Linked DNA regions of Homo sapiens: region 1 is linked to region 2. Evidence: fine-mapped expression QTL. Tissue or cell type: fibroblasts. Region 2 holds a variant in brackets; the other region holds the start of a gene. All regions are shown on one strand. Distances are from middle to middle.

What was found. PIP is the estimated chance that this variant, and not a neighbour inherited with it, causes the effect.
Region 1: it holds the start of APCDD1L-DT, and the variant in region 2 is fine-mapped to the expression of APCDD1L-DT in fibroblasts (GTEx, PIP above 0.99). The same link has a PIP of 0.9 or more in damaged cartilage and subcutaneous fat.

What each region holds. Positions count from the first base shown.
Region 1 is chr20:58,511,427-58,518,635 of GRCh38, reverse strand. It overlaps APCDD1L-DT (APCDD1L divergent transcript), which reads right to left and starts at 3,257. Exons shown (of 7, transcript NR_034147.1): 1 at 2,896-3,257. It overlaps APCDD1L (APC down-regulated 1 like), which reads left to right and starts at 3,237. Exons shown (of 4, transcript NM_153360.3): 1 at 3,237-3,977. The coding sequence starts at 3,929. RefSeq lists an enhancer at 3,636-4,634.
Region 2 is chr20:58,538,662-58,545,870 of GRCh38, reverse strand. The region is part of intron 5 of APCDD1L-DT (APCDD1L divergent transcript); the gene reads right to left. Among named protein-coding and RNA genes, the nearest start is that of APCDD1L, 27 kb to the right of the region's middle. RefSeq lists an enhancer at 3,089-4,288. The variant T/C (reference allele first, on the strand shown) is at 3,857.

The sequences.
Region 1 (7,209 bases), 27 kb after region 2:
TCTGACTCAAGGCCGCTTCCCTCACACCCAGCAAGACCCCCTGAATCCTCCCAAAACCTCACCCGCAGCAGCTCTGACCACCCAGCGAGGGCCCCTGCAGTTAACAGCCCAGGAAAGCCCAGCTACGGAGGCCAAGATGCGATAATGCCCACAGACGTGACTTAACGGCCAACACAGAGCTGAGGCTTCTCCCCAAAACAGCCTTATGATTGCTGCCGTTTCAAAAGCTCTCAAGCGATTACTCGGTAAGAAAGAGGTCAGGAACCAAGCGTATATCACCCTTCCCTGAGCAAAATGCAAGATCTGGATAACATAACTTTTTTCTTTTTTTGATTAAAAATAAATATATGTTTGAAGACAATAAATGAGTTTTAGCTTCGGTTCCTTCTTTTGCTCTTGTTTGATCTGCTTGTGAGTTGAGGACAGCCTTGTTCAAACACTATTTGTCCATTTTCTTTGCTTTTTTCTATTTGTGGGGTAAAATCTGTGTTATCTCAACAGGGTCAGCTCACCTGCATTGCGCTTCTGTTTCCTCACCTGGAAAGTGAGGAACGCTGGACCCGTCAGTCTCCAGTGCCCTTTACAGCTGCCCACACCCTCCCAAGTGTCGCCCCATCACAAGGGTGAGGATGCAGCAGGCGCAGGGCCCACCTGTAACTCTCAGCCTCAACAGCTGGGGTTTAGCTAGGATGTAGAAAAAGCACTTTTTTTTTTTGAGACAAGGTCTTGCTCTGTCACCCAGGCTGGAGTGCAGTGGCACAATCATAGCTCACTGCAGCCTCGACCACCCAGGCTCAAGAGATCCTCCCACGTCAGCCTCCCGAGTAGCCGGGACCACAGGCATGTGCCACTACACCTGGAGGATTTTTGTATTTTTTCTAGAGATGGTGTTTTGCCATGTTGCCCAGGCTGGAGAGAAAAAGTACTTTGGAGTCGTGTTTCCCCCATTATTCACACACCTCTTCGAAAAGAAGCCGTTATTATAAAACAGGCCTTTTCTTTTGGGGTCCTCAGATTTGGAAAGGAGCAGAAAACCCAGTGAGACAGGACGTGTCCTGGAGACACAGCGCGGTGGTTGGAAGCAGGGATCCGGGAGTTCTGCCACCTTCCAGCTGCCTGGCCTCAGGACAGTGGCCCAAACTCTCTGAACTCAGTTGCCCCAGTTTGTAAAATGGCCTGACCGTAATTCCCACTTCTTGTCAATTTGTTCAGGTATAAAGTACATGCATATAAAGTACTCAACCTAACTAGTGCCTGGCCCATGCCACAGTCTCAATAATTATCAGCAAATCCTCTCATTTATAAATAAGCCAGTACAACTATTAATACACAAGCATCATACTTTGTGGAAAAGTTCGTATCTCTAACAGCAGTACAATAAGTTCTGAAAATACTGAATTATGACCCTATGTAGGACATCAATGTAACACCCATTCTCCCCACAAAATGCCACTAATGCGTGAACCCCCATCAGCCGCCTGGGACTTTGAAATACCCACATCCGGAAAGCCCAGAGACTGAAGTCTCAAATGATTATGGCCAGAATAGCATGTAGTTTTAACTTTTTTTTTTTTTTTTTTGAGATGGAGTTTCACTCTTGTCACACAGGCTGGAGTGCAATGGCATGATCTCAGCTCACTGCAACCTCCGCCTCCCAGGTTCAAGTGATTCTCCTGCCTCAGCCTCTGGAGTAGCTAGGATTACTGACGCCCGCCACCACGCCCAGCTAATTTTTGTATTTTTAGTAGAGCCGGGGTTTCACCATGTTGGCCAGGCTGCTCTTAAACTCCTGACCTCAGGTGACCCACCCGTCTGGCTCTCCCAAAGAGCTGGGATTACAGGTGTGTGCCACGGCACCCGGCCTTAGCATGTAGTTTTTAAACTACCCATAATTGTAAATTTTGTACATTGAAAGACCCATAATTGCCACAAATAATCACAATTATGCAAGTATAAATAATCACCCTGCACAACTCTCCTCTTGCCCACAAAGTTATCCCTTTCATGAGAATTTAATATGTGACAATGGCCATTGTCTGCCAGGGAAAGCTCATACCGATTTCAGTTTCAGCAAGGCCACCTCGAGTCTCATAGAAACCAGAAAAAAAAAATGTCATTTTCAGGAAGCAAATTGATCGTTTTCCTCACATTTCCATTTGCGTTAAGATCATGGTGTGGCCTTGCTCTGGACTTTTTCCTATTCCCTGTTGCCTCTGGAGAGGAGGAAAGCTAAGGATGGCTGGTGGGCCCACATCGGGGGTCCCTGGGTGGATTGAAGGGCTCTTGTGGCTCCTGGAAGCCTCGCCCAAGTTTCTGGTAAGAAATCAAAAGGTGAGGTGGTGTCCCCTGTTCCCCTGTGGGATGATCAGCCCACAAAAGTGGGACAAATGAGTCTATAAAATGCTTCAGAGGGGCAGGTGGACTGCTCACTCGTGAGTCCCGGGAAACAGGCCTGGCCCAGTTCTCCAAACCTTTCCCCAGGGAGACCGCATCTCTGTCTTCTCTCTTCTTCTCTCTTCTCTCTTGTTCTCTCTTCTCTCTCTTCTCTCTTCTCTCTCCCCCTCCCTCCTCCTTCCTGGTTCTCTTTTTTCTGTTGATTTCACTCCCTCCTTTCTTTTCCCTTTCTCTTTCCTCCCCTTTCTCTCTCTTTCTCTGCCTGTTTCCCCTTTCCTCACTTTCATTTCTCTTTCTGTCTCTTTCTTTCTCTCCCTCTCTCAGGTCTCTCTTCTCTGTCTCTCTTCATCCTCAGTTTTCCCCTCTCTCCCCTCTTACTTTCTTTCCCTTTTTCCTTTTTCTTTCCATCTTCTTCCTCTCCCTCTCTGGGTTCGTGGCAACACAAGGAAACCCGCACATCCCCAGCCCGCAGCCTCGCCCCCTCGGTCCCACTGCAGTTACCCGGTGATCCATGCAGGTGGGAACAATCCAGTTAACTTTTCCCATCCGAGTGATTCTCTTTCTCTTCTTCATTCATAAATGCCATAACTCTCCCGGTCCTCCTTTCCAAGGCTCGTGCACTTGATTTCAAGGCTTGCCTGCCACCCAGGGTGCCACCAGAGTCCCAGTGCCTGGGTTGGGGGCTGGAGCGCACCCTTTGGGATCCCCCAGCCTGTCCTCCGCCTCACGGCTGCCTCGCTTCTGAGCTGCCACCCTCAGCTGACTCACTCAGATGAGATTTGGGAGGGAGGGGGGCAGGAGGAGGAGTTGCGAGAAGGAGGAAAACCCGCCTGGTCGGGTCCACACTTTGCCTAGATGCGTTTGGGTGTGGTGGGGAGCGGGTGACGGCCTCATTTACAGACAGAGGCCGGGGCTGGCTTCTAGGCGACCGGGTTGGCCACTTTCACTGCGCTTCTGGGTTTGCTGGGATCCAAGTTGACGCGACTTTTCCAGGAGTAGCTGGAAGACCTGAATAGAAACTTCAGGGGTCCCAGGACTGGCGGGGCTTAGAGGAACTCCCCGCCCCGCTTGCCCTTCCAGGGAACGGCCTGGCTAGGGGTGCGCTTTGACGCAAGGAGCGCATCGCTCTGCCTTGGCCGGGACCAGAGCTTGGGGGAGGCCTCCTTGCCCACTGCGAAGACTTTGGGGAAGGCGACGGCCAGGGGACGGACATCTGGGGGAGGGCTGGGGGTCTGAATGGCAGGAGCTGCACCAGGGGGCTGTGCGCGCTGCGCGGGTGTGCGCGCCTCGCCGGGGGCTGTCTCCACCTCTTCTGGCAAGTTGGACCTATGAGTGCGCAGCTCCGCTTACAACTATCAACAGCCGGGAAGGCTGAGCGCGTGTGAGCGCCGAGGGGGGCGCAGGACCCTCGCAACTTCTTCGCAGGACTCCAGCCTGGCCGCCGGCGCCCGCAGCCGTCCGAGAGCCCTGCGCCCGCGCCTCCCCTTGCGCACCGTGGCAGCGCCCGGCGGGCGGTCCTGCCAGCCCCGACGGGATGCCCGCAGCCATGCTCCCCTACGCTTGCGTCCTGGTGCTTTTGGGAGGTAGGTGCCACCCTCCCCCACCCGGCAAACTGGCTGAGCTCGGAAGGGAGGGAGCTCGCCGTCTAATGTCCCCTAAGGGCCCTTGGGGACTACGGCCCTGGGTCGGCCCACGCGGCTGCTATGCTGCGCCCTGCGCGCCTTTCTCCAGTCTCACCTGGCCGGCACCTGCGCGCCTCCAGGAGCTTCCTGGGGCCTGCGGGAGGGAGTCGCGTCACCTCGCAATATGAGAGCCGCTGCACTCTCTGCGCCAGTCGGGGCCTGGCCTGTAGGTACCCAGAGCTGCCCTTTGTGCCGGGCCCAGTGGGACCGGGGCCTCCAAGAAGATGCAGGAGGATCCCAGGCCCACTGAGACCCCCATGGTGCGGGACAAGCCCGGCTATTCAGACCAAGGTTACTGGGGTTGTTTTTGCCCACGGAATCCTGACCTGTGCGGGGTCGGGGCTTCTTCCTGCAGCAGGACTCGGGGAGAAGCTAGGGAGCGCGCAGTGACCCCAGGCTCGAGTTGTGCCCAGCAGGCCTGACAAAGGGGACCAAGGGGCTTCAGGAACCCCTGGTAGAGTAGTCAATGCCTTCTCCAGGACTAAGGGGTTCCCTGGTGGCTCTTCGTGGGGGTGGGGAGTAGGGTAGACAAAACTGTACAAAGGCCAGCTGACTGGAGTGTGCCATCACAGGGGCCCAGTCACCACTGACAAAAATGACAGTAACCACAGTTGAAGTGTGCCCAGCTGGGGGCTCATCCCCAAGCACCCTCACATTATGAATGGCTGAGAATTCTGGCCCTGGAGTTAGACCACCTGGCTGGGAAGCCCAGATCAACATCATATCAACCCGTCTGGCTTTGGGTAAGCATGGCCATCGGCTCTCTCAGCCTTGACTTTCTTTCCTGTCAAATGGGCTCACAAAATCCCCTCCTCCGTCTGGGATGATTGTGAAGATTACGAGAGCACGTGCAGGAGGATCACTCCACTTGCTGCCTGGCACTGAGCTCATGTTCAGGGAATGGCAGCCGAGAACCCCGGGGTGAAGAGGGGCTGCGCGGTCCCACAGAGCACGCTCTGCTCCATGTATAGGCAAGGAGCAAAGTCTAAGTCACCTCGAGGAGCTCTTCAATCACAGTCTTTTCTTCCCAGCCCCCAAATTTCTAAACAAGCTGTTTTGAGAAGAACTGGCAGGGGTCTGAAGGAGGGTCAGGGGAGGGTGCCTCCGCAGTTTGAAGAGTTGCAGATTCACCTGTCGAAAGGGACATTCATCCAGGGGCCGCTTCCCCTGCCAGTCTGGGAGCGAGAGGTGACACAGCTGTCCTTGGCCACAGAGTTAGTTGATCATCAGCATGAAAATAGACCACCTCACCCCTGCTGGTTCTTTCGAAAGGGCAGGAAAATGCAAACTGGAAAGGGTGACAAGGGGGCCAGCTGTGGAAGCGCGCCTCTGCTGGGTGCTGAGATAGGGAGGACAGGATGGGGAAACCGGGTGTCCATCTGCTCTCATCCGCCTCCTCCAGGCCGTTGCACCCAGTGGGAATGGAACAGTCTAGAGTGGTGGGACACATGCCCCAGGAACCTGCAGTCTCAGTCACAGCACATGGCTGTTGTCTTTGGCAGGCCGGAGCTTCCCGTCATGCCAATGAAATCACTGTGAGTGTAGAGCCGTGGCTGGCTCTTGGGGAGTCTTGCTGCCCAGCTCCTCGGTGACCTTTCACCACAGCAAATCAGACAGATTCAACAGCAGAGAAGCCAAGAGTGCCCGGGGGCCTGACGAGAGAGGGGGGCAGCCTGCCCTCAATTCAGACACAGCCACCAGAAAGGGGGAGGGTGCCGTTCAGCCTGCCACTGCAGCTCCCAGCTCTACACCGGGCACTATTTTCCACTGAACGCTTCTTTGAAAAGCTCTTTTCACCGCTGGCTACATCACCAGGTGATGAGATCCTTTTGCTTTAGTAAAAGGAAACAGGACCCAGTTAATCCTTCAGCTACTGACATAATTTAGGTGCCTGAGCTGGGCACGCCTGAACTTCATGTCTCCAGGTTCCAGAAACTATATATATAATGGCACACCAGCCACCCCACCAAGAGAATTCAGATTGAGTACACACACGTTAGGGGTTCTTAACCTCGCCGCTATTGACATTTGGCACCAGAGGATTCTTTGTTGGGGATGAGGGGCCCGTCCTGTGCATTTTGGGGTGCTTAGCAGTATCCCTGCCCTCTTCCTACAGATGCCAGTTGCACCTCCTCCTAGTTATGATAACTGAAAATGTCTCCAGATATGACCACATGTCTCCAGGTGATAAAGTGGCCCCCAGTTGAGAATCACTGGTATGAACAGATCAAACCCAACAGGTAGTTTTTCAGACGAATCCGTCAAAATCACTGGGTTAGACGGATTTTGTTATTCTTGCTCTGAACGATCAGGAAATCAAAGGCACAGTGGGGCCCCAAGAAAAACAACATAGCTTAGGTAGTTTCTAATTTGGACGTTGATTTTTCCCATTTGCTCTCCCTCCCTCTTGTATCTGAACATGTCCGCATGGCGGCCGCAGGAGCCAGGCTGCGGTATGGGTAGTCACCCACTGCAGCGAACCTTCCTTCAAACCCTGTCAGGCCAGATGTGTCTGGTGCCAGTTCTCCAGCTGCCAGTGTTGGTTCACTCCACAGCAATTTCTGGCTTTTAAAAATCTCATTACTCAACAATTTATGCTGGAGGGGGAAAATGAGAAACCATAGCTGCTGCTTTTTTTTCGAACTTGTATTTTTTTTTTCTAATTTCAGCTCTGCTTTTATCTCTCGCTATATACTTTGCGATGGCAAGTTATCATTTACAGTCAGATTAACTAGGTCAAAATCACAAGCTATTCCATAATAAATTAGTTGATGTGGAGCTCTGCCTTGAAACCCAGAATAAAAACTAAGAAGAAAATTACTTAAATACACTCATCCAAAAATCTAATGTGAATAGAGACCCGTAATCGTATTAGTTACTTAAAACAAACAAAAAAAATTATCAATGGAGACTTCCTCTTGCTACTGTGTGAAGTGCTTCTCGAAGATGAATCACTGTGGCCAGCTGTGCCACTTATCTTCTGACCAAGGCTGTAATCTCAAAATTCAAAACAACCAGCTCCAGGCAAATACAGCAGCTTCCTTGATTTCAAAACCATCTGGATGGCAAAGCAGTTAGAAGCTACACGTGAAGAAATATTTTTGCAATATATTGGAAGTTAACTATGCTAATG
Region 2 (7,209 bases):
CTTTCTTTCTTTTTTTTTTTTTTTAACTGAGTCTCACTCTGTCACCCACGCTGGAGTGCAGTGACGTGATCTTGGCTCACTGCAACCTCCGCCTCCCAGGTTCAAGCAATTCTCCTGACTCAGCCTCCTAAGTAGCATGCCACCACGCCCGCTAATTTTTGCCTTTTTAGTAGAGATGGGGTTTCATCATGTTGTCCAGGCTGGTCTCAAACTCCTGACCTCAGGTGATCCGCCCACTTTGGCCTCCCAGAGTGCTGGGATTACAGGTCTGTGTGTCTTTTCTTCTTCTAAGATCAGTGCCTTAGAAGTATGATGTGAATCACATCCATAATTTTTTATTTCCTAGCCACATTTTCAAAAAGTAAAAACAAATGGGTACACAATCAAAAGAATACAATTTTCGTTATACATTTTATATCACCCAAATCCCAGCATGTAATCAATATAAAAGTTATTGAGTACTTAACACTTTTTTTTTTCACCTCAAGTCTGAAATCTGGTGAATGTTTGACATTTACAACTTGTCTCTGTATGGACTGGCCACATTTCAAACGCAGTAACGAATGGTGACCATATTGGCCAGTGCGGGTCCAGAAGATGGGCCTGAGATAGTCTCTCACAGGTTGTTGTGAGTTGGGTTTTGTTTTTGTTTGTTTGTTTGTTTTTAAATAAACATGATGTGGCTGGGCATGGTAGCTCAGGCCTATAATCCCAGCACTTTGGAAGGCCAAGGTGGGTGGCTTGCTTGAGCCTAGGAGTTCAAGACCAGCCTGGGCAACATGGGGAGACCACATCTCTACAAAACTACAAAAAATACAAAAGAATTTAGCCAGGCGTGGTGGCATGTGCCTGTGGTCCCAGCTACCCGGGAGGCTGAGGTGGGAAGATTGCTTGAGCCCTTTCAAAGGCAGAGGCTGCAGTGAGTGGTGATTGCACCACCGCACTCCAGCCTGGGCAACAGAGTGAGAGTCTGTCTCAAAAAAAATAATAAAATAAAATAAACAATTAAGAAGATAAACATGATGTGAAATGTGCTTAGCAGCATCCTCACGTCTCATTAGCACCCAGTGAATATTAGCTACGATGATTATCAGAAAGCCAGTGTCCACACAGTTCATCCAGAAAGCACGACAGTCCATGGCTCCTATTTACCAAATCTTCTCTTTCAATTCCCTTCCACAGACACAACCCCTAACAGAACAACTGTGGGGGGAGGGATTTCTTTAGTCTCTGGGTAAAGCTATCAAAAACAAATGGCGGCTTCTCGAGCTCGCCCTTAAAGCAATCGGTGGATCCCAAGATTAAAATTCAACTGCAGCCAAATTGTGTTATAAACGGCTTCACTCCACCTGGGGTCTGGACGCCAGGCAGATGTAATCCCCTCTCCTGGGCATACACTGATGGAAACCCCGCCTCACTGCACCAGCCAAAGCCTTTAAATCAGCCGTTATTCCCGGCCTGACATGAGAGTTACAACAGGGTTTTACAGGCCCTCTGCAGGGCTCTCTAAATTTTGTGGCCGTAGCTTCCTATGGCTAGCAATCCAAATAAAAATAGTGCTATTGATCACAAAGGCATCAATAACGTCAGCCCTAAAGCTACCTGTGCACATTTCTAATTGTCCTGTCCTTTTTATGTCTTTAAATATTACCATAAGCTCTGAGAGATTCGCTACCTCTGATTGGGAAGAAGGAAATCACCCCCTCCGCTCAGTCCCAGGCATTGGAAAGCAGTGGGGAGGAAAACTCACGCGCTAGGAATAACTGTGAAGTCCCTTTTTGTAAAAAAGAAAATAAAACACTGGCTCCCATGTTGAGCTTGGCATTATAGTTCGTCAGGAAATGCCGCCCAATTATGCCTAATTTCTCATTGTTTTTCCGACCGGTTTGCGTCCCAGCAATTACGCCTCGTTCGCAGTAAGAGAAAAGTAAAATGCCCAGCTGGTAGACTGATCAGAAAGCCGACAGCCAATAAATTAATCAAGAAATAAGGAATGAATGCTGTGTTTGATGTTTGCAAATCACACATGTGGCTCTCCAGATGCTTGGACTTAATTTTTACCACCACAAAAACCAAGAAAGAGGAAACTGGGAGTGACTCCAGCAGCTAAGCAAACCCTCCCCAGCAAAGCAACTGTTCAGCTACCTCTGGAATCTTCTCACCTTCAGCATACTGCCAAGAAAAAAGAGCACCCCCACCCACCCACAAACCCCCAAGAGCCTTAGGCATGAACCTTTCTGGGGTCCACGCAAGTGTGTGCAATGTGGAAGAAAATTATGGGCTCCAAAATTCAACAAGAAAGCCACAAAATCAAAATTAATAAATGCTTCATTAAACGCCTGCCAACTATAGCAGTGCAGCCTCCTCACTGCTTGCTGGGTGCTGTATTGATGATGTCGTCGTCATAAAAACTGCATTACGTTTGAGAAAACCATTGCAAGAATGCCTAAGGATGCCTATTGGTTGTGGGGCAAATCACAGGTAATTGCAACTTTGATGAATTACCTGCTGCTAGATAATTTAAGAAGCAAAATCATTAAACTCCTTTCAAATATTTTTACTGCAAACAAACTATAGTTAGTGTGGGCGTATTTTAATTCGTTTGATACGATGGGGAACAAGGCTGCCAAATAAAACACCCCCCTGGACCTAACAAGAGGCCAAGGTGTGTGCAGGCTTAGGCCGCTCTTCAGGTGCCCCCCGGGGCTGGGGGCCCGCTCCCTCAAACAGGTAGCTCAGGAAGCCCTAGCCATCTGCAGGGATCCGGTGGCTGTGTTCCAGTAAAGGCCAGCAAAACATGTCCAGTCTCCAAAGGGGACGGACACCATCATCTTTGGCATTCATGTCACGCTTCAAAGGCCAGAGTCCCCCGCTCCCCCTCCTGCAATGAGCCACCCGTTTCTGCCGCTGCTCTCCTGCGTGTCCACGGCTGAGGGTGCGAGCTGGTAATTACATGCTCGCTTAGGCAGGGACGCTTCCAAGCAGCGCTGGAGAGCTGATTAACCACCTGGTTTGTGGGCACAATTCAAAGGGGCACCTGGGAGGCAGGCCACAGTGACTCGTAGCACGGTTGCCAGGCGGATGTGTGCACAAGGGAAAAAAATGCTCCCGTGTCAGGACAGCTCCATGCTCTGCCTTCCCAAGGTCTCACCCACTCAGCCAAAGACCCTGGCACTTTGAAGGTTCCCTGTGGACATGAAGGCACCCTGGAAAGGGCTGTGGGACCAACAGCTCCATGAATTGCCACCAGGGTGATTTTGCGCCCTCTCACCCAGAAGCATTTGGCAATGTCTGAAGACATTTTTGGTTGTTGCAATGGGAGAAGGGGCTGCTCACAGAATCCAGTGGGTGGGAGCAGGAAGGCTACTAAACCTCCCGTGATACACAGGTCAGTCCCCACCACCCCAGTGACTCAGCCCCAAAGATCCGTCCCCACCACCCCAGTGACTCAGCCCCAAAGATCCGTCCCCACCACCCCAGTGACTCAGCCCCAAAGATCCGTCCCCACCACCCCAGTGACTCAGCCCCAAAGATCCGTCCCCACCACCCCAGTGACTCAGCCCCAAAGATCCGTCCCCACCACCCCAGTGACTCAGCCCCAAAGATCTGTCCCCACCACCCCAGTGACTCAGCCCCAAAGATCTGTCCCCACCACCCCAGTGACTCAGCCCCAAATGTCAGTCGCACATCAGTTGAGAAACTCTGACTTAGAGAACCATCCAGACCCAAGCGGCCTGCCTCTTGAAGAGTCTTTCCTGGGGACTGCTTACAACTCAGGAGGGCAGGAGAACTGAAGGTGGGGGCCCTGACAGTACACCCAGGTCTCCAGGCTGGAGGAGAAACTGTGTGGGGTCTC[T/C]TGGGTTAGAGAAAACCTCCTTTTTTTTGGCAGCCCTTGGAGCTGGATGTATTTTTGATGGAATCAGACCTCAAATGAGGTTGTGAATCACCAACTTCAAGAAGAAAGAGCTCTCCCGTTATGCCCATAAGTTAAAGACGAGGCACCTTAGTGCTCTCCTCAGGAGCCTCAAACCTCCAGCGATGGGTTCCCTGTCTTTTCTCTCTGTGAGCAACATTCCGTCCTTTCATGTAGATTTCCCTTTTAAGGAGAGTTGGTTCTGTCTGGGGCCAGTTTAGATTATTTTTTCAAATAAAAGAACATCAGAAAAGATTAATCATAGCCCGAAATGGAAAGGGACGAAGCTGCAGCCTGTCGTGACCTTCTCGTTTGCTTCGTGATAGCCTGCCTAGCCTTGGATGGAGGCCGGGGCTGGAGTGGGTGGTGATTTTTTCCAAGTGGCCCTCAGCTCTGAACCTCACTCACTGCAGTGGCTGTGATAACTTCTTGGATTTATGAATAAAGTGGCAACCTTAAAAATATTCGTTTGGAGTTTCACAATGGAAGTAGTGATGATCAACACATTCAGCCACTGTGTGATCAGATATAATTTGGGGGCTGTTGGTGGAATTGCCTTGTGTTGGCAAAGGTATGAGATTAGCACTCTGAAAAAACAATAACTAATTCCCGTGTTCCTAGGAGCAGGGTAGATATTAACTCTATTTTCCAGGAGATGAAACTAACATAGAAAGGTTAGGCAAGCTTTGCCCTGCTCCACAGAGAACTGGCCCTGGAGTGGAAATTAGGACCCCAATGTTGCGGGCACCAAACAAGGGATCAAACCTTCATCCACATGACAAATTACAGCTTGAAAAATCCCTTCATCGGTGCTCAGGCCTGACAGCACCCCATAACCACTGATTCGAATGGAAATAAGGATGGAGAAGAGAGGAGAGGGCTGCAGAGGAGAAGGTGGGAGTGGGGAGGGCCCGGATTCCCAGCAGGCATGAGAGTGTGTGAGCTGCACTGAGAATTTCCCCTGATGCGAACCTCCAGCTTTTTTCTAGTTCCAAACACCCTCCTTGTAAATAGGAGGATCTGAGAAACATCTCTGGAAGCAAAGCCCCATCAGCCAATTCCAGGGCTTACAGCTCGGCTGCAAGATGCAAGGAAGAGCCACGATGGATGATTCTTAATGGTGGGAGAGGAGTTCTGAAAAATGACCCTTTGCTTTCTTTCATAACTTTTCAGGAAACGCTGCACAATTATCCTTCTCTTTCCTTGCTTAAAAGTTGAACTGAGCCATTAACCTCAGCAAACGAACACAGGAACAGAAAACCAAATGCCGGATGTTCTCACTTGTAAGTGGGAGCTGAACAATGAGAACACATGGACACAGGGAGGGGAACAACACACACTGGGGCCTGTGTAGGGGGATAGTGGGGGAAAGCATCATGATAAATAGCTAATGCATGTGGGGTTTAATACCTAGGTGATGGGCTGATGGGGGCAGCAAACCACCATGGCACACGTTTACCCATGTAACAAACCTGCACATCCTGCACATGGATCCCGAAATGTAAAATTAAAAAAAAAATTGAACTGAAATTAATTTTTTAAAAAACGAGCTAGTTGTAAAAGAAAACCATAATGTCCCACCAGTGGGTAATTTCTTCTTGATTAAAGATGGGGGCTGTTGATAAAGCTGATGCCCACTAACTTCATAACAAATGGAGATCCATGTCTCATGCTCTTTTATGACTTGAGCCTCGTCTGGATGGGTTTTCCGTGCAAGGAGGGAACATTTTAGGATGTGATTTTTCTTGTAAGAAAGTGGAACAAAGTAAACAGGAGTGGGATCACTGGGAATTGGGGGATGGGGGTGGGTACCGTGGATGAAGGTGGGTACCATGGTGGATCAGGCTGGCAAACCCCAAAACCTCTGAGGAAGCTTAACAGACAAACAGACATCACGTGGAATGAGGCAGTACAAGTATACAATGACAACTCTGATGAATTCTTGCCAAAAAAGTCAAATATGAACATCATCAAACTTCTAGATCTTACTGAGAGCTAGCTACAGGTTTGCAGGACACACAGGGGACAGAGGAACATATCAGAAGACACCATCCCATCAGCAAAATCAAGATTATGGCAAAGGCTACAGGATGGGTGATATGGTTTCCAATAGAAAAATAAGAAAATAAAAAAGGGAATGGAGATTCACTAAAGATTTCCAAAACCAAATCAACCAAATGCAATGTGTGGATCTTCTTTGGATCTTAATTTAAACAAAGCATTTATGAGGCCATCAATGGAATTGCAACATTGACTGGGTATTATATGATATTTTAAAATGACTGTCCATTTTTGAGGCACAGTAATGGTATTACATTGTAGTGAATGACTTGTGAATGAAATGATAGGATGTGTTCACTTTAAAATAGAGGTGGGGAGAGAATATGGGAATTCAGTGAAACAAGATTGGCATGTTGATAACGGTTTAAGCTGGGAGATGGTTACATGAGAGTTTACTATATGATTCTATTTTTTATAGACTCAAAAATTTCTGCAATGAAATATGGGAATTTGATGAAACAAGATTGGCATGTTGATAACTGTGGAAGCTGGGAGATGGGTATATAAATTTCTGCGGTGAATAATTAAAAGAAGAAAAGGTATCTAGAGATGGCAGGATAAAGAGACCAGCATCTATTTTCCAATGATTGACTGCTATAGACACCAAACTTCTCAAATGTCTGCAAGGGGCAAGTGACAGAAACAGGGATAGAGCAGTCAACAGTTCCAATAGGGCCCTGCCCTTGTGAAATTCAGCCTGGTGGGAGACATAGACGATAATCAAATAGTCACACAAACACATGACTGCACAATGGTGTGTGTTAGAAAGGTGAAATAGACAAAGCACACAATAGCATGGCCTAACTCAGTTTGGGGTTCAGGCAAATTGTCATTAGTCATTGGTGCAACCCTCCAAATATCTCAGTTCTCTCTCCTTCTGAGTACAAGATGCGACTGAACTTCCTGGCCCCTGTGGTCAATGTGGCCTGTGACTAGTTCTGGCGAGAGTGGGAGACACATAAGAGTCATTCCTGGTGAGCCTTAATCCCCTGTGTGAAACCTACCAGAGCCTTTTTTCCCTCTACCACTGCCTATTGACAGTCCAGGTAGTGGCTGGTCCATGGACAAGGTTCTGGAGCAAAGATTCAAAAGTATCATGGTGGCAGATCCCCTAGCCACCCAACAGGGAACATGTGGCAGAAAATATGTTCTGATGGTTTAAAGCCACTGCAAGTTTGAGGTTGTTCATTACTGCAAGTCAACTAAGCTTGTGCTGACTGATACAGAGGGCTTCC